Regions from separate parts of the Homo sapiens genome. Here region 2 is linked to region 1. The links come from fine-mapping of genetic effects on gene expression. A gene starts in region 1. The other region holds a variant in brackets. All regions are shown on one strand. Distances are from middle to middle. Region 1 holds the start of NFIC (nuclear factor I C). Region 2 overlaps NFIC (nuclear factor I C).

Evidence for each region. PIP is the estimated chance that this variant, and not a neighbour inherited with it, causes the effect.
Region 2: its variant is fine-mapped to the expression of NFIC in fibroblasts (GTEx, PIP above 0.99). The same link has a PIP of 0.9 or more in aorta and whole blood.

What each region holds. Positions count from the first base shown.
Region 1 is chr19:3,361,755-3,370,974 of GRCh38, reverse strand. NFIC (nuclear factor I C) reads right to left here and starts at 4,392. Exons shown (of 11, transcript NM_001245002.2): 1 at 4,309-4,392. The coding sequence starts at 4,338. RefSeq lists an enhancer at 15-64 and silencers at 1,333-1,612, 3,384-3,783, 4,074-4,223, 4,674-4,763.
Region 2 is chr19:3,452,665-3,461,884 of GRCh38, reverse strand. NFIC (nuclear factor I C) reads right to left here. Exons shown (of 11, transcript NM_001245002.2): 8 at 9,219-9,220; 9 at 7,969-8,122; 10 at 5,250-5,335. Among named protein-coding and RNA genes, the nearest start is that of SMIM24, 23 kb to the left of the region's middle. RefSeq lists a silencer at 4,307-4,356. The variant C/T (reference allele first, on the strand shown) is at 4,825.

The DNA of each region.
Region 1 (9,220 bases):
AGTGTGCACGCGTGTGCGCCCAGCGTGTGCTCATGGATGTGAACTGGTCAGGACTTGGGTGCCCGCACGCTGTGTGCTCAGGGCAGATGGGCACCCAGGTGAGGTCGGCGTGGACACAGGCAGGAGAGTGGGGGGCGGGCCGTGTCCGGGGCAGGAGGCCCAGGCAGCATTTCCCATCCATTTGGTGTGAGACAGGGAGGGAGGCCAGCTCAGAGAGACAGAGAGAGAGAAAGAAGAGGAGGAACAGAGAGAGAGGAAGGGAGGGAGAAAGAAAGAGACAGACAGAGAGAAAGAAGAGGAACAGAGAGGGAGGTAGGGAGGGAGAAAGAGAGAGAGAAGAGAGAAGGAGAGAGGGAGAGAAGGGAGACGGGGAGAGAGAGAGAAAGGAAGAGGGAAAGACGGAAAGGGAGACAGAGAAGGAGAGAGGGAGAGAGGAGGAGAGAGCGAGATGGGGGGAGAAAGGGAGGGAGACAGAGAGAGAGAGAGAGAGAGAGGAGAACGCTGACTCTGCCAGAATCCCAGCTTTGGTGATTTACAGGGCGCTTGGCCCTGGCGCGCAGAGGCACCTCCGCCGCAGAGAGGGGAGGGGGAGAAACAGAGAGAGATGCACAGAGAGACCCAGAGGGAGATACAGCGGGAGAGTGGTGGAGCCTTGTAGAGAGTGAATCAGAGGCCACCAGGCCCCGGGTGGGGGGCACACGGGGAGAGAGCGCCCACCTGCCCAAGCCGCCAGATGGAAAATGGCCTGAACCCCAGCTCTGCCAGCCCCACTGTGCCACCTCGGGCAGGCCCTGGCCCTCTCTGACTCTTAGCCCCTCTCCCGGCACTGAGGGGCTGCAGGCCCCCTGCTCCTGGTAGGCACCCCCCAAGCTCCCTCTAAGAACCTACACTGGGCCTGGGCCCTGCTGCCTCCCCCACCCCCACCTATCCCCAGGGCCCAGGAGATGCTTAAGGAAGATCTAGAAAATCCAACAAAGGTCGGGGGTCTGGGGTGGGAGGACAGCCTCTCCCAGCCTCGGTTACCCTGCTGGAGAAATGGCAGCAAAGCACATTGTGCTCCGAGAGGGCATGGGACGAACGAATGAAGGAAACAACGAACGAATGAGACAGGGACCCGGTGGCGGGATGGAGGTGGCTCGGGGAATCCGCCACGCTGCGGCCAAGAGGGACTTGGCCCCAAACCCGGAATAACTAACGTGGCGGTGGCGCCAGCGGGAGGGAGGCAGGGAGGGAGGCCCAGAGCAGGCGCGGGGAGGCCGGCCTTCCCGCCGGCAGGATTTATGGGAGCCATGGGCTCCACACAGTTCCTCTTAAGAGTAAAAGTGAAAAAGCGCTTGAGTCACCGCTGAGCCCGGCCCGGGGCTCCCAGAATGCCCCAGGGCCGCCAGCACCCACTCCCCACTCGGCGGGCCGGGCCCGGGTGGCACAGAGCGGGCTGGCACCGAGATGCCCCCCACCCCCCGCCAGCCTCGGCTCCCGAGAAGGATCCGGGTCGGATCAGCTAAAAGGGAGCTATTTTCGGTTGGGCTCAGGTTGTAAAATTAGCTGGGAAAAGGGGGAGAGGGAGGCCCAGAGACAGAGAGAGACAGAGAGAGAGGAGTAAGGAGACACATGCAGAGATAGAGAGAGACAGGGAGAGAGGGGGCAAGGGGAGACACGCAGAGACAGAGGAGAAAGGGAAGGTGAGACAGAGATGAAGAGACAGACAGACATATTGGAGAGAAACAGAGACAGAGAGGAAGGGGGCAGAGAGACAGAGACAGAGAAACAGACAGAGACACATCGGACAGACACACAAAGAAGGCAAAGGGAGGGAGAGACAGAGAGACAGAGACACATCAAAGAGACATGCAGAGACAAAGAGGAGAAAGGGATGGTGAGATAGACATGAAGAGACAGAGACAGTGGGAGAGACTGAGACATCAGAGAGACAGAGGATGAGAAAGAGAGACACAAAGAGACCAACAGTGACTGGGAGTGAAACAGAGGCGGGGAGAGACAGAGATGGAGAGACAGGGAGAAACAGACACACACACACACACACACACACACACACACACAGAGTCAGAGCAAGACAGAGAGAAAGAGAGAAAGACAGACAAAAAGAGACCAAGATGAGAGAAACGGAGGGGACGTGATTCGGGAAACTGAGTCAGGCAGCCAGGACTTGGGTGGGAGGCTCCTGCATGGGGCACTCAGGGTCCTTCTGAGTCCCCCAGCCCACCCCACTGGCTACCCCAGACCAGGCTGGGCCTTGGGGGAACAGTGGGGATTACATTCAGGCTGAAGACAAACTGGAAAGGGGGTCCCCAGCTCCACTACAGGGCTGGGGTGGAGGGCGGGGCAGAGAGGAGAATCGCAGGGGAGGAGGGAGCCCCCTGCACTTGGGACTCGCTGTCCCCACTCTGGCCTGGGAGCTCTCTGCCTCTGTCTCTCTGCCTGTCTCTGTCTTCTCATCTCTGTCTCTTGCACGCAGCACCCCTGGATAGTTTTTAGTTTTTAGCCTCTCCGTTTTTTGGTTTCCACAGACAGCCCTCCTGGCTGGTCCTTGCCCTGTTCCTGGAGAAACTGAGGCCGAGTTAGCAATTCTCTGAGGCAAAGCCTGGACTGGGGTTCTTACTAACCCCCAACCCACCCCAGCAACCAGGATGTCTCCCAACCAGCCCTGATGGGGGAATTCCAGGGTGCACAGGCAGCCTTCCAACCTCCCCAGCCTGGAACAGCCTCCCCTCCGCTCAGCCCTCCCAAATGGCTCCTTCCAGCTGGTGAGGACAGAGCGGGGACACCTCAGTCACCCCACAAGCCCAGAGACTTCAAAGGCTGCCCGAGGTCACACAGCGTGCCCACTCGAACCCTAGTTGTTCTTGGAGAACTTCAAAGAGATGCCTTCTTCGGGAACCCCCCCCCCAAAGCTGCTCAGAAAGGGAAACTGAGGCTGGGACAGGGACTTACCCAAGGTCACTCAGGGGATCACAGGTAGGACAGACCTCAGACCCCCTCAGCACCAGCTCCCACATTCCCTGTCGGCTGCAGGGGGCCGGTGAGAAAGACCCTACCAAGGAGCATGCCTGGCGTGGGGGGTCCCTCACTGCACCATGCCCTGGAGCGGAAGCCGGGGACTCATATACTCCCCACACAGTGCTTCTTAAGACGGGCCTGGCCCTCGCTGGAATCGCACCCCCCACGTGCCGGGACTTTACAGTTTGCCCGCCATACTGTCCCCTCTCCAGAACCGGCCTTAGCCGCACCTCACTTCAGGGGAAACTGAGGCCAGAACCTCTCCAGCCTAAAGACACACTGCGTAAGGAGGAAAGCAGCGGTCTAGAAAACGGAACTTGCAGACCTCGGGGTCCCCGGGAGCCTGGGCTGGAAGGAGTCCCCGGGGGGAGCCGCCCCCTCCCCACACACCCCCTCGGCCATTGCACAAGGCTCGGCCCCGGGGCAGTCTGGGAGTGCGGCCAGGGGTGAGAGGCTACGGGAGGGGGAGGGGGAGGGGGAGGGGACGGGGCAGGTGCCGGGCTGGCGAGGGCGTCCGCAGCGCCGCAGTGCCCGGGCCAGACCCGGAGCGCCGGGCCTCCCGCTCCTCCCGGCGGCGGCTCCAGAATCCAGAATCCAGAATCCAGAATCGATGCAGCGAAAATACCGGGACGGTGCTGGGGGGCTTGCAAAGGAGGGGGGACCCAGCCGGGCCGCCGGAGCACCCTTCCCCCTCCTGGGCCTCCAACTTCTCCTGCCCCCTCCCCCTCCATGCACACGTGGGCCAATAACGAGGGAAAGGCGACCGAGGGCCAGGGCGGCCCGCACAACCTTGGTGGGGGGACACGGGGAAAACACATGAGAGGTCCCTTTCTCTCCAGCTGGGGAGACCCAGGGTCCAATCACGACCCCCTAGATTCCTCTCAGAGGCAGGCGGGGGGCTTCCCGCAGAGCCCTTGCTGGAGGGGGGCCAGCCCCCACCCCGACCTTTCCGAGTGTCGGGGCGGGGGTGCGGAGTGCGTCGGTGTGTGGGGGGGGGACGCAAATCTGCAGACCAAGCCCCACATCCGGGAGAGGTCCCGAGAGTCGGGGTTGGGGGTGCTGGGCGGGAGTCCCGCGTAGGGGGTCCGCGGTAGGTAAGGGTGTGGGGGGGGTACCCCAGCCTGACCCATCCCCCCACCGGACCCCAGCCCTCGGCGCGGGGGGCATCCCGGGCAGGGATGGCGGGAGGGACGCGCGCCTTTTTCGTCCCGCCTCCTCCTGCTTCAAAACTCCGGGGCTGGGATGCGGGGGGCGCGGGGGCGCCGGCGGGGGGCCGGGCGAGGACCGTACCTGGGTGAGGCAGAGCGGGGACGAATACATCCCGGGCGCGGCGGGAGGCGCAGGGCCGGCCGGAGCGGGCGCGCTGAACTTACTGAGTCATTTTTCCAAACCACCCCCCCGCCCCCCCCAACCCCCCCCCCCGCCCCGCGGCCGGCGCGCTCTCCTCGCCGCCTCCTCCCTCGGTCTCCCTCCTCCTCCCTCCTGCTCTCCCTCTCTCGCGCCGCCCGCCTCGCTCTCTGTCCCTCTCTCCCTCCGTCTCTCTCTTCCTCTCTCCCCCGTCTCTGTCTCTCTGTCTCTCTCTCTACCCTCTGACACCCTCCCCCTCCCACCCCGAACCTCCCACTTCTCAACACCCAACTTTCAAAGAAACGAGGGAAAAAAGGGCGCGAGCGAGAAAGGAGAGCCTCCCCCGACGTCTCAGGACCCCCCCGCTCCTCCCGTATTTACGCAATGCCCCAGGGCACTAGACCAGGACCCCAGGACTGCAGGGCGACCCCAATTCGGATCAAGCGGAGAGGGGGGACAGGGTTGTTTCTGGACATTGAGGGGCCAGGGGTGGATTTTTAAGGCCCCCCCTCCCCACCCCCCCATCACCCCCGAGCTGGCCGGGAAGTTGGAGGAAAGAGCCAGGGGGGAGGGAAGGAATGAAGAAGTGACGTGCGCAGAGGCCGGCCAGCGCGCCTCTTTCCCCTTAAAGATGTACGACCCTGGGTGCACGGTGAGCTGGTCCCACAGCACCCTGGCTCCCTTCTCCCCCCAGAGCCAGGCAGGGGCTGCGGGTCCCCAGCTAGAGGGGCTTGTGTGCAGCTGTCCCTTCCTTGGCCAGAAGGGCCCAGGCTAACACGGGAGGCTCCAGAATTTGCTCTCTTCACCCAGCACCCAAGGGGCAGGGGAGGGGTGGCCTCGCCTGTGTGTCTCTCCAGCACCCCAGGAGGACGGTGTCCAGGCGGGATCTCCAGCTGGCCAGATAAACCCTTGCAGCCTCCCCCTGGGTATCCAATAATTTCCACCTGCCTCAGGGGTGTGCCCTTTTCACAGATCTCAAGACTGAGGTATGGCAAGTGTGGCTTGGAGCCAGGCCATCTGGACCTGGAGCCCACATTCTGTTCTCCTTCTAGACGTAACAGGGCAGAGACCTGGCCTGCCTCCGTCTGAGCCCCCAGGGCATCTGATGACAGGGCCCCAACCCTCCCCCGGTTCACTCCCTGGATCCTCCCAGGCTAGCTCAGAGGCTGCTGTGTCTCTCATTCCCATCCCAAGGGTTCTCCCCTATAAAGTGGCTTAAAGATGCCCATCCTGTGGGATTGCTGGGGATAAGGACAATGACCTTAGCAGAGCCTTGACCTTGGGTCAAATGTTCACTAAAGACACATTCTTAGAAAGCTTGGCCATTTCACCTCATCTCTCTGAGCTTCCCAAGGACAAATGATACCCTCTCACCAAGCTGGGGCAGGTGCCCCAGGCCCAGGGGCGCAGAAGATACCAGCACCCATTATCCTCAGGCATTACAGGAGAGGAAACTGAGGCCCAGAGAACGGAAGCCACTTGCCCAGGGTCTGACAGGTAAACTAGGAGGGAGCAGAATTCCTGCAGCGTAGGTTCCCTAGGCCCCCCACAGGCTCCCCTCTGCATGACGGTGACATTATTCAAACAGTGCTTAGTACATCACGAACGGTCCATAAATGTGTGTGTCTGTGTATTTTAAACCCACTGTGCAGCTGTGGGGAGCATTTGAATTAAATGGTGAGAAGTGTATCTGGAAATCCACATACCAATATAACGTGAAGCAATTTATTTTATTAAAACACGCTAGGGACACATACAGGGTGAAATCTAAAATTCACAGATATTTAAAAGTTGCAGTTGACTTCAGACACTCCTCCTAGACTTCCAGACCCCGTGCCTTCCACCCTCCCTCCCCTGTACAGACCACCCTGCCTGCAGCCTTCATTCAGCAGCTTAGAATCCTTTGGAAGGTGAAGTTTAGAGAGCAGAGACTGCCCCTCTTGGAACCTCGGTTTCCTCATCTGTAAAATGGCTATAGTAACAGGATGCATCTTGGGAGGTGGGGAAGGTTGGAGTCTTTACATAGCATGTGGGAAGGCTGTGTGAATATTATTGGTGGCGGTAGCTGCAGGGAGAAACTTCTGCAAGTGTACGAACAGCAGCCTATATCCCAGTTTGGGTGGCAAGGGACCCCCGCAGCACACACAGTTGGTTCCCTAAATTGCCGCGTGGGCTCGCTGCTTGGGTCTATGTCTCCTCCAGTCAGCAGCTTCGTCTCTCTGCACCTCGGCTCTCCCTCTGTGAAATGGGGCGACGCCAGCTCATAACCCTCCAGGTTGTAGGCAAGTCAGCAAATACCTGCCCGTGGTTACAACAGGGAACTGTACGTCATAGTTTCTTTAAAAAGGCAATTGGTAGATTGGGACCTGCATGTGGAGGGCCCGGAAGATGGGTGCATGATTTAGCTCCTGGCACTTTCGAGCACAATCTGGCTCATTTTTTTTTTTTTTCAAAGCACTCTCTCTACAGTTATTTCACTCTTCGGCATCTCTGTAACTGTCCCAGATACAGGAGCACAAAAGAGTTGACTGCCACCTATAAAACTAATGCCCACAATTTGGAGGCAGCCATGCTGTCCATCTGTGGGGGACCGGTTTAGTAATCCCAACACAGGCTGGGACACTATGCAGCTGAGTAAAACCAGTGGCTCCCAACTGGTTATGTCCCCAAGAGACAAGTGGGGGGACAGAAAGCTGGAGAGCTCTCCCCCTTGGCACTGTGGACACTGGGGCTGGATCGCTCTCTGGGTTGGGGCCGTCCTGGGCCCTGCAGGGTGCTGAGCAGAGTCCATGGCCTCCACCCACTCCATGCCAGGGGCACCCCCCAGTCGTGACAACCACAAATGTCCTTAGACATGGCTAAGTGTCCCATGGGAACAGAATCAACCCTGGCTGAGACCCCACTGCTGTAGACCCAGCAAGGAAATTCAAGATCTCATTTAGGGTTTTAAAGAGTACACATGTATTTATACAAATATACATAGTATCCTTTACATACACACACATGCACACACACCCACACACACACATATCTCCTTTGGCCGGTTGTAGTGGCTCACGCCTGTAATCCCAACACTTTGGGAGGCCGAGGCAGGCAGATCACTTGAGGTCAGGAGTTTAAAATCAGCCTGGCCAACATGGCGAAACCCCGTCTCTACTAAAATTACAAAAATTAGCCGGGCATGGGCGAGGGTGCCTGTAATGTCAGCTACTCGGGAGGCTGAGGCTGGAGGTTCGCTTGAACTCGGGAGGTGGAGGTTGCAGTGAGCCAGGATCATGCCATTGCACTCCAGCCTGGGCAACAGAGCGAAACTCCATCTCAAAAAAAAAAAAAAAAAAAATATATATATATATATATATATATATATACACACACATACACATACATATACATATGTCTCCTTTATGGAAATACACGAGTATTTCCACAAGTACATCCTTTATGGAAATATACACATATGCACATGTATCCTCTATAAGTGTGTATTTCTCAGTCCTGCAAATGCTCCAACTATAGATGGTAACATTCTGGAGCGGGGTTCCACCCAGGAATGGGGGTGATCAGAAAGATTGGATTTTTTTTCCTCTGGATACAGTTGTATCCTCTTCATATGATCACTAATGGCTTCAGTAATTAAAGGAAAACTTAAAAAGTTGAATGCAATTCACAGAGCAGCTCAGGCAGGGTAGACAGGAACCCCCAGCCCCCCATGGTAACCCCACAGCCACCACACCCAGAGAATAAAGGACATAATCTTGCAGGCAAATGATTACACAGCAGTGCAGTGTGCAGTCAGCCTCCCCTAGCCCCGCACCTGCTCAGCAAGGGGCTCACAATGTCAGCTCCCCAGGAACCTTGCAAGGGTCCCATGTGGTCCCATTTTACAGATGAGAAACTGAGGCTGTAAGAAGGGATGTTAAAGTCAAGTGAGTTAAAGGTCAGATAGGCCGTTGAGGCTGGTACAGATAGACACACACACCACACACTACGACCTACAGAGACACACAGACACACATCGTGCAGACTCAAGCAGCTGCAGACACAGACTCCACACGACACACAGCTACATACACAAAGACACAAATACACGCACAGACTCACATAAAAACAGACCCATATATCATCACAGCCTTCCCCCCACACCTGACCTCAGATACCTCCTCAAAGAGGGGCGAGCAGAGACACACACACACACACACAGACCCACATGGCACACACACAGCCACAAACACACCCTCCCAACTCCCCACAGGACGCTTCTTGACAAGCACAACGCATGGATATAGCTGCCCCCACACAAGTGCAGACACAACCACAAACACATGGGCACTTGTCCACAATCACAGACACACTCCACACAAAAGCACACACTCTTACAAGCACACACACACCCACAAGTGGAACCCCCCGGTATTCCCATACAGGCACACACAGAGTCACATACGCACCATCACAATGACACACAGCACGCCACCTCCCTGCTCCTCCTGCACCAGCTCTGCCTGGAGCTGGGCTCTCGGCCCTGCAGAAACGCGGTGGGGACAGGGAAGGGCAGGAGGGTGAGATGTGGTTGTCTATCCCCCCGCAAGTGCGGTGTTTGTGTCCGTGAGTGTGTCTGCCCATGTGTGTCTGTGCACGCCTGTGTGTGTGACGTCTGTCTCTAGACAGGCCTGTGTGTGTCTATGTGAGTCTCTGTGTGGTTGTGTGTGCAGAGTCATGCAGACACAGGCACCGTGAGGGAGTGTCGTGTGTGTGTGTGTGTAACTATGACTGCATGCACGTGTGTCCCACTGTGCACAGAACCCAAAATGGGGACAGAGGGCCATGCCGTGTGCTGAAGGCCAGGGCATCCAAC
Region 2 (9,220 bases), 91 kb before region 1:
ACAGGGTTTCACCATGTTGGCCAGGATGGTCTCACTCTCTTGACCTCGTGATCCGCCCGCCTCGGCCTCCCAAAGTGCTGGGATTACAGGCGTGAGCCACTCTGCCTGGCCTTTATTTTATATTTTAAAAATTATTTTCTTCTCTATTTATTATTTATTTATGAGACAGAGTCTTGCTCTGTTGCCCAGGCTGGAATGCAGTGGTGTGATCTTGGCTCTCTACAACCTCCGCTTCCTGGGTTCAAGTGATCCTTGTGCCTTAGCCTCCCAAGTAGCTGGGATTACAGGCCCGCCCCACCACACCCAGCTAATTTTTGTATTCTTAGTAGAGACCGGGTTTCGCCATGTTGGCCGGGCTGGTCTTGAATTCCTGGCCTCAAGTGATCCGCCCACCTTGGCCTCCCAAAGTGCTGGGATTACAGGCGTGAGCCACTGTGGCCAGCCAATTTATTATTTTATTTTGAGACAGGGTCTTGCTCCGTTGCCCAGGCTGGAGTGCAGTGGTGCCATCATAGCTCACTGCAGCCTCCATCTCCTGGGCTCAAGTGATCCTCCCACCTCAGCCTCCCGAGTAGCTGGGACCACAGGTATGTTCCACCACATCTGACTAGTTTTTTTTTTTTTTTTGTAGAGGTGGGGTTTCGCCATGTAGACCAGGCTGGCCTTGAACTCCTTCCTCCCAAAGTGCTAGGATTACAGACATGAGCCACCACATCAGCTGCCTTGTTCACTTTATAAAGAGGTTTTTTGTTGATTTTTTGAGACAGCGTCACGCTCTTGTCACCAGGCTGGAGTGCAGTGGCACGATCTTGGCTCACTGCAACCTCTGCCTCCCGGGTTCAAGTGATTTTCTTGCCTCAGCCTCCCGAGTAGCTAGGATTACACGCATGCGCCATCACACCCAGCTAATTTTTGTATTTTTGGTAGAAACGGGGTTTCTCCATGTTGGCCAGGCTGGTCTCAAACTCCTGACCTCAGCTTATTCGTTTGCTTTGGCCTCCCAAAGTGCTGGGATTATAGGCATGAGCCACTGCACATGGCCTTGAGAATGTTTTTAAAAAGTAAACAAGAGGCTGGGCTCGGTGGCTCATGCCTGTAATCCCAGTACTTTGGGAGACCAAGGTGGGTGGATCACCTGAGGTCAGGGGTTCGAGACCAGCCTGGCCAACATGGTGAAACCCTGTCTCTACTAAAAATACAAAAATTAGCCAGGCGTGGTGGCACGTGCCTGTAATCCCAGCTACTCGGGAGGCTGAGGCAGCAGAATCGTCTGAATCCAGGGGGCGGAGGTTGTAGTCAGCCAAGATCGTGCCATTGCACTCCAGCCTGGGCAGCATAAGACTCCGTCTCAAAACAAAAACCAAAAAAACCAAAAAAAAACAAAAAAAAATTCTCCTCTTTAATGATGTCCCCGGTATCCCCGTGAAGGAGGGGGTAGGTCTCCCTCCACCGCTGTTTTGTGTGAAGAAAGTGAGGCCCAGAGAAGTCAAGGAACTTGCCCGAGGTCACCAGCATGGAAGCGGCAGAGGTGGAACTTGAACTCAGGCCTGTCTGGCTCTGGCTCTCATTTCTGCTCCTGCCCAGGGCCAACCCCCTCGCCTGCCTCTCAGGAATCCCCTTGGCATCTTCTGAGCACTGTCCTGGGCGTCCAGGGCCCATCCTGTCACAGGTCCCCCGGATGGCCCCCTCTTGCTCCACAGAAGCTCACTAAGCACAGGGGGGCTGAGGATGACTCTCAACCTCCCAGAGGCGGGAGACCGAGGCTAAGGGAGGGGAGTTCTGCATGGGGCTGTACCCAAGGTCACGTCATTTGGGGACAGCTCCGGCCTCAGTCTCTGCAGAGAAGCTGCTGTCCAGACCCCTGCCCTGGAAACGCAAACTCCAACCCCAGATGGAGCATCCAGGGTGGACTGTGAGGGGAGGGCTGTGCCTCTGGAACTGGGGAGACCCCTCCACTCCCCAACTGAGGTTAGAGGTGGGGCCGCCCCCCACCGCTGCAGCAAATCATTCAACAGAGCCCCTCCAACCAGGCAGCCACTGGGCCAGCCCATGGAACTGGCGCCACAGTGGTTCCCAGCGCCCCACCTCCAGCCAAGTTCAAGTTCATCTTGGCCATTACCTCATGTCTGGTTTCTGTTGGCAACCGACAGACTCTGGGCGTGACCCTCCCCGTGGTGGACCAGCCTCCCCTCAGCCCTTCCTCCCTCCTCCCTTCCCTCCCCTCCCCTTCCTGCCTGGCTGTGGCCCCAGCAATGGGGCGGGGGTGGGGTGGGGGCACCCTCAACTCCACATCCTCCCACTCAGCTGAGGGGAGACTGAGGCAGTAGGTGTGAAGGGGGAGGTTTGGGCTCTGGTATCCTGCTGGCCTGGCTGCAGCCGCCTGTGTGGCTCCCGGCATGTGGCTCAATGCCCGCCTTGCCCCCCACCCTCGGTTTACCCAGCTGCTTACGTGGGTTCCCGTGCAGGAGAAATGTAGGGGCGTGAAGGACATCACAGAGGGGAGGGGCCAGGGCGTCAGAGCCACCCAGCCTCACAGTGGGGGGATTGATAGGGACGGACATGGGGCGATGGGTGGGTAACTGACCAGGGCGAGATCAATTAGCATAGATCACGGGGAGGGATATTGATGGGGGGAGAGTCCATGGACTGGGGGGTGTCGGGAGCCGGAGAGGCAGAGGGAAAGGCGCGCCCACCCAGGCTTTGGGGGAGGAGGGGGCAGAGGGAAGCGAATCCGCCAGGAATAGAGGAGGCGGAGGCAGAAGTGCTGACTGGCCAGAATCGGAAATGAGAGGCCTCCAAGCTCAGGGCCCTTTGAGCGGGAGCTGGGAGAGGGGAGAGCGGGATCTCACTGCTTCTTCCCTCCCTCTCTCCGGGGTCTGCAGGGAGGTGGCGGCGCCCGGCCTCAACCCAGGTGCTCTTAGTCCAGTCAGGGCAGCAGCAATGGGGTCCTCCCCAGACCTGTGCTCCCTGGATGCCCAGTTTGGGGACCTCGCCTTCCCCCTAACCCATGCTCCCCTGAGAGCCTCTTGACAATGTGTCACCTCCTTTCTGTGCTCCAGAAAGTTCTGACTCCCAGGCCTGGTGGGTGTCCACTCCCTCCCTCTAAACCCTTCTATGGCTCCCCACTACCCCAGAGCAAAGCCCGCATCATCTGTCTGGCCCCTGCCACCGGAGATCTCTCACATTCCAGCCAGCTCCCCCTCCCCCGACCCACACCATTGCCTATGCTGAGCCCCTTGCCAGTGCCCCCCCACACCCCATTCTGCCAGCCCTGGTCCCACCCTTTCTGGGTCCCCAGAGGAGTCCAGCCAGTCAAGATAGGGATGCTGAGAAAGGTGCCACCCTTGCCTGCCTCAGTTTCCCTTCCCTCCCAGGCTTGGGTGGGGTGGGGCTGGAGCCAGCACAGTCTGAGAGAAGGGTCCCGGGCCCTGGCGGGAGGGCCTGGTCAGAGAGTTTGGTCCAAGGCAGAGGCTGGGGAAGGGTTAAGCGGGCTGGGCCTCCTCCCACCGCAGCTTTTATTAGCTTTGGTTTCTGAACCACTTAAGACGTTCCCAGCCTCCCGCAGGGGCAGGGAGCGATGTGGGGTGGGGGTGGCAGAGGTAATGCCGGGCTCCATCAGCACCAGGCGGGGGAGAGGTTGGCCATAGGGGGCCCAAATCCCAAAGCGAGGAGTCCTGGACGTCTGCTCGCTGGGGGACCCTGACCAAGTTACTCCCTCTCCGGGGCTCTATGGGTGCAAGGCAGGGTACTTAATATTTACGGGGTGTGGGGAAGCCTGAACCTTTCAGTGCCCTTTCTGTCCCCCAGTGCCCTTCAAAGGCTCTTGGTGCGGGTGCCCAAGGCCAGAGGAAGAGACAGAGGTTCAGAGTGGGTGAGCCAGCACTGGGCTGGAGCCCTGGCCCCTGACCCAGGATTCCCTCCACCCATAGCACATGGATCTCCTCTGAACTCAGGAGAAGCAGCCTCCATCCCTGCTTCCTCCTCCGGCTGGTTTTGCGGAGCCTGGGAAGAGAGGGAGGGGCCGCTTACAGGCATCCTGGGCACCCAGCACAGGGAGGGAGGGGGAATGCCATGTCCCCTCCCCGCCCCCATCCGCTCAGCCAGGACAGCCCCGCAGGGTCCCGGGGAGGCCCCGTGACCCTTGCCCGTGGGCTCTGCAGCAGGAAACCTCCCTCAGTGGCTGGAAGATTTGAACACGGCCCCTGGGGACCCCATACATCTCCACGCTCTGCAGTTCCGTGGCCGCTGGGTAGCCCAGAGCTCGTTTCTCTCTGAGTCTGGACCTCCCGGGCCTGTGGCAGCCACTCCTACATCCTCCAACCCTCTCCCCAACACAAACCGGGGAGAGAGCAGAGGCTCAAAGGTCCAGCTGCTTACCCATAACCCGAAGACGCGCTCACACACTCCTGGCCTACACAGAGCCCCTTATGGGGGTGGGGGGTGAGGGACACCTGGGCCTGGGGCTAAGGCTGCCCTCCCACGCCCCCACTCCCTAGACTACTGTGCAGCCTCAGGCAATTGACTTCCCCTCTCTGAGCCTCCTCTGTCAACCTCCTGCCTGCCTGCCTGCCTTCTAGGGGTGGTGGGACCCCGGCCATGCTCACTCAGCTGCAGCCGTCTGAACATGTACGTGACTATGAACATCAACGTGAACATGAACGCTGGCCCCTGCCCCATCCTGTCTGTCCTGCTGACGAAGCCTCTCCGCCCTGACTCCTCACACTGGCTTAGATGTGGGCTGAAGCCTGGGGTGGGGGCTTGGATGCTGTCCTGGGAGGCCCCACGCCCCGCCATGGGCTGCCTCAGTTTCCCCCGGCCACCCCG[C/T]GGTCCCTCTAGGCCTCGGCGTGGATGGGGGATGGAGGCTGGAGGAGGGAGGGTGATGCACTGTGTGACCCTGGGCAGACCCCCTTGTCTCTCTGGGCCTCAGTTTTCCCATCTATACCATGGGAAGCAGGTGGTAATGACACTGGTCCCATAGCTGTACCACGATGGTCTCCAGAGACGCTCCTGGGGACCCCACAGGCTGAGTCTGGGGCCACACCCCATCCCCCCAGGACCAAGGTGGAGGGAAATTTGGCCTCAGGGAGAGGCCAGGTGGGGGCTCGAGGCCCAGGTGGGGTGTGGGAGGCTGGCGCCCCTGTGCCAGGGGTGTGGCGTGGGACCCAGCAGGCCCTCTTCGCCCTGAGCCCCCCGGGCCGGCCCCTCTGCCCTGCCCCTCCCACCCCACCAGCCGGCCTCTCGGCCCCTACCTGTGCCTGATAAATGCCCGCAGGATCCCTTGGTCCTAATCCCACAAAGGAACGGTTTGCAGGGGACGTGTCGGGCGGAGAGTAGGCTGCAGGGAGGAGAGAGACCGAGAGCCCGTTAGCGAGGGGTTGTGGGAGCCGGGGCGGCCCTGGCCCCAGAGAGGGTGGCCACCGCCAGGCGTCACACAGCCGGGCCTCTGCACCCAGTGCCTGGGGCCTCCGAGCCTGCCGCCCTACCCCCAGTTGAACCGGGCCCCCCTGAAAGGCCCAAGGTCCTTGGGAGGCGGGGATCCTGACTCGAGGGGCCCGGGGGTCACGGCTGAGATCGCCCAGGTGGGCGGGGTGTCTGCTGAGAGGGAAGGCAGGATGGCTCTGTAATTCACAAAACCGCCCGTGAATTATTCAGGGTGGGCAGCGCCCGCCCGGTCCTGCCACTGAGGGCTGCCTCCGCGCGGGGTGCATGAATTATTGAGGGCGTTTTATTTATTAATCTTCCTCCCGGAGAGGGCAGAGGGAGGGCTGGGTGTGTGCATACATACAGATGTGCGTATTTATATTTCAGCCTCAGCGATTATATTTTGTCGGCGTGTGAGTAACTCACGGCCTGGGGCTACAGCAGGGATGGGGGCCTCAGACAGGCCGGGACCCAGGTAGGGGGAGAAGAAGCTGCAACAGGCAGGGTCCCCAAGTTGTCCTGGCTGGGGTTGGGGGGAGCTGGAGGCAGCGAGGCTTATGGGGAGAAGTAGGAGTAGATTTGCAGTTAAGAGCCCCGGTGCAGGGAAAGGGGGGTGGAATCCATGCCTATCCTGCATTTATTAAGTGTGTACTGTATGCCAGGCACTGGGCATAATCCCGTTGAGCCCTGAGTGGATACTAAGCAGCATCCTGCATCTATTAAGTGTCTACTGTATACCAGGCTCTGGGCATAATCCCACCGAGCCCTGAGTGGATCCTAAGCAGCATCCTGCATCTATTAAGTGTCTACTGTAAACCAGGCTCTGGGCATAATCTCATCGAGCCCTGAGTGGATCCTAAGCAGTATCCTGCATCTATTAAGTGTCTATTGTATACCAGGCTCTGGGCATAATCCCACTGAGCCCTGAGTGGATCCTACACAGTATCCTGCACCTATTAAGTGTCTACTGTATGCCAGGCTCTGGGCATAATCCCACCGAGCCCTGAGTGGATCCTACGCAGTATCCTGCATCTATTAAGTGTCTACTGTATGCCAGGCACTGGGCATAATCCCACCGAGCCCTGAGTGGATCCTACACAGTATCCTGCATCTATTAAGTGTCTACTGTATGCCAGGCTCTGGGCATAATCCCATCGAGCCCTGAGTGGATCCCACGCAGTATCCTGCATTTATTAAGTGTCTACTGAATACCAGGCTCTGGGCATGATCCCACTGAGCCCTGACTGGATCCTATGCAGTCAACGCTCCCATTTCACAGATGAGCAGGCAGGGACAGCCGGCAAGAATGACCACAGCTGCCTGACACCACGCAGCATCAGGCGCCACATGGAATGTCCTCTCTGCCTCCCTGACCCATGTCACCGGCTTGTCCCCCACTGCCCTGTGAATTGGGCACCAAGGCAAACCCACTTTGCAGCTGAGAAAACTGAGGCTCAGAGAGGGGAAGACACCTGCCTGAGGTCACACAGTGAGAGAGCTGCAGAGGTGGGATTCCAGCCCAGGGTGGATTTGGGGCTGATCTCCTCCAGCCAGTGATCAGAAGCCGGTTTTTATGGGCAGGCAGCCTGGGTTCTGGCACGCAGTGGGGACGGGGACAGGAACGCCGGGGCAGGGAGAAGAGGAGCTGAGGGCACCTAGAAGGAACCGTGGCCACCAACTGCTTGGGTGGGGTGGGGGGTCTCATTTGGAGAGTGAGGGACAGAGATGCTCAAAAAGGGGGGTGAGGGGCAGATGGAGTCCATGGGGAGAGGTCTCTGGGTTCAGAGATGTCTGGCGCCCTGTGAGGGTGGGTGACCCACCCAAGCCTGCATGGGGGTCGTGGGGAGAGTCTGGGGGTAGAGCCACTGCGGACGAATGGGGTGGACCTCAGGACAGGGATGCCAGGACCGAGGGGCCATCCAGCAGCCACCCAGAACCACATCCAGAGAGCAGAAAAATCTAGAAGGTGCAGCAGCCGCCAACCCAGGGGCTTCCAGGTCAGGTGGACAGGCGAAGAGAGTCCCATCTAAAGGTGTGGTCCAGCCCAGGTCACCCAAAGGAACTGGGCCTGGTGTAGCTCCTTTCTCCCCAAGAAGCCAGAACTCTGGAAATGTTTATGTAAAACGTCCTGATTTTAAAATGATAACAACCGATTCTCTTTCTCCACAAACAAAAGACCAGTCTGGGGGTCGAGTCTGGCCCTCGGGCCGCCACTGTGAGATCCGTGTCCACTGTCAGCTGCCTGACATACCAGGGAGGGTTTCTGACGGCCCACGGCGGGCACCGGGGTCCCCCAGGTGACTCGGCGAAGGGGACAGACCCTGGACTCTCACCCTGGCCCGAGGCTTGGTCCGGCCAGCCCCTAAGGCTGCCTCAGCCCTACATGGGCCCAACCACGTGGCCACTGGGCTGTTTTCCGGAGACCCACCAAACTCGCCAGGCCCTGCAGGGTCGGGCCTGACCTCTGACCTGGCAGTGGGGCTGGGGAGGGGACAGGCCCCCCTGCGGACATCCGCCCCACCAGGGCACCGCTTCCCGCGTGCTTACAAGGCGAGGTCGGCGACGTGGCTCCTCCCTCGGAGGTGGTGGCGGGTTTGGTGGCAGGGGGGAGCGCCAGCCGTGGCAGCCCCGGGGGCGGAGGTGCCAGCATCTGAGCAGAAAGGCAGTGGCTGGGCATTTTGAGCTGACCACTTCCATTTAACTGGGGGAACAGAGAGACACGTGGTTAAGGGGTGGGCTCCCCCTCTACCTCGGGCTGCTGGCGCCGGCCGCCCCCGGCTCTGTGCACGGCCCGGACGGGGTGGCAGGCTGGGGGGCCAGGGCGCGGGTGTGACCATGGCGGGTTTGGTGGGTCTGAGGACGGCCGGAGGTGGAGGGGCCTGGGGACACCCGCTTGCTGGTGTCACTCAAAGCCCGGCACTACTGGGGCCACGCTCACTGCATCTCCTCTGTAAACCCCCTGCACGCCAACTCGACTGATTTCCTTCCAAACAGTGCCACCGCCTCCTAACAGCAGGTTCTCCGCGTTTTTCCTAATTCACTGCGAGCACGCCATCATCCACCATCATCCACGGCCTGGCCCGTGGTTCCAAAGTCCGAAAAGCTCTGAACATCCAAAGCTTCCTGTGGAGTCTGGCAAACGCTGTCTTGCTCGAACTGAGTTTGGTGGTTTTTTTGTAATCAATGTCTTCCTGCCCCCCGCCCCCCAACCTTTTTTTTCTTTTTGAGACAGGGTCTCGTTCTGTCACCCAGGCTGGGGTGCAGTGGCACAATCACAGCTCACAGCAGCCTCGACCTCCCAGGTTCAAGCGATCCTCCCACCTCAGCCTCCTGAGTAGCTGGGACTACAGGCGCCCGCCACCATGCGTGGCTCATTTTTAAGTATTTTTTTTGTAGAAACTGGGTCACGCTATGCTGCCCAGGTTGGTCTTGAACTCTGGGCTTATGCAATCCTCCCGCCTTGGCCTCCGAAAGCGCTGGGATCACAGGCATGAGCCGCTATGCCCAGTCCCTCCCTGCCTTGTGTTAACATGAGTACGACTCACGCAGTTGCTGGGACCTACGGGTGCTACCCAGACCCCACAGGGTGCGACATGATGCGCCCGAAACCCTGACATCCGAAAGCATCTCAATTCTGACCCAATCCAGCTGCCTCCCAGCACGACAGAGGAGGGGACTTCAGAGCCAAGTCCTCAAGACCCTTTTAAGCAGAGGTTGTGCCTTCGTGTGAGCACGTGGCCCCCGGGAGGTCACCTGGAGCCGCCAGGAGAGGCCCGAATGCGCCCCGCCCAACTCACCG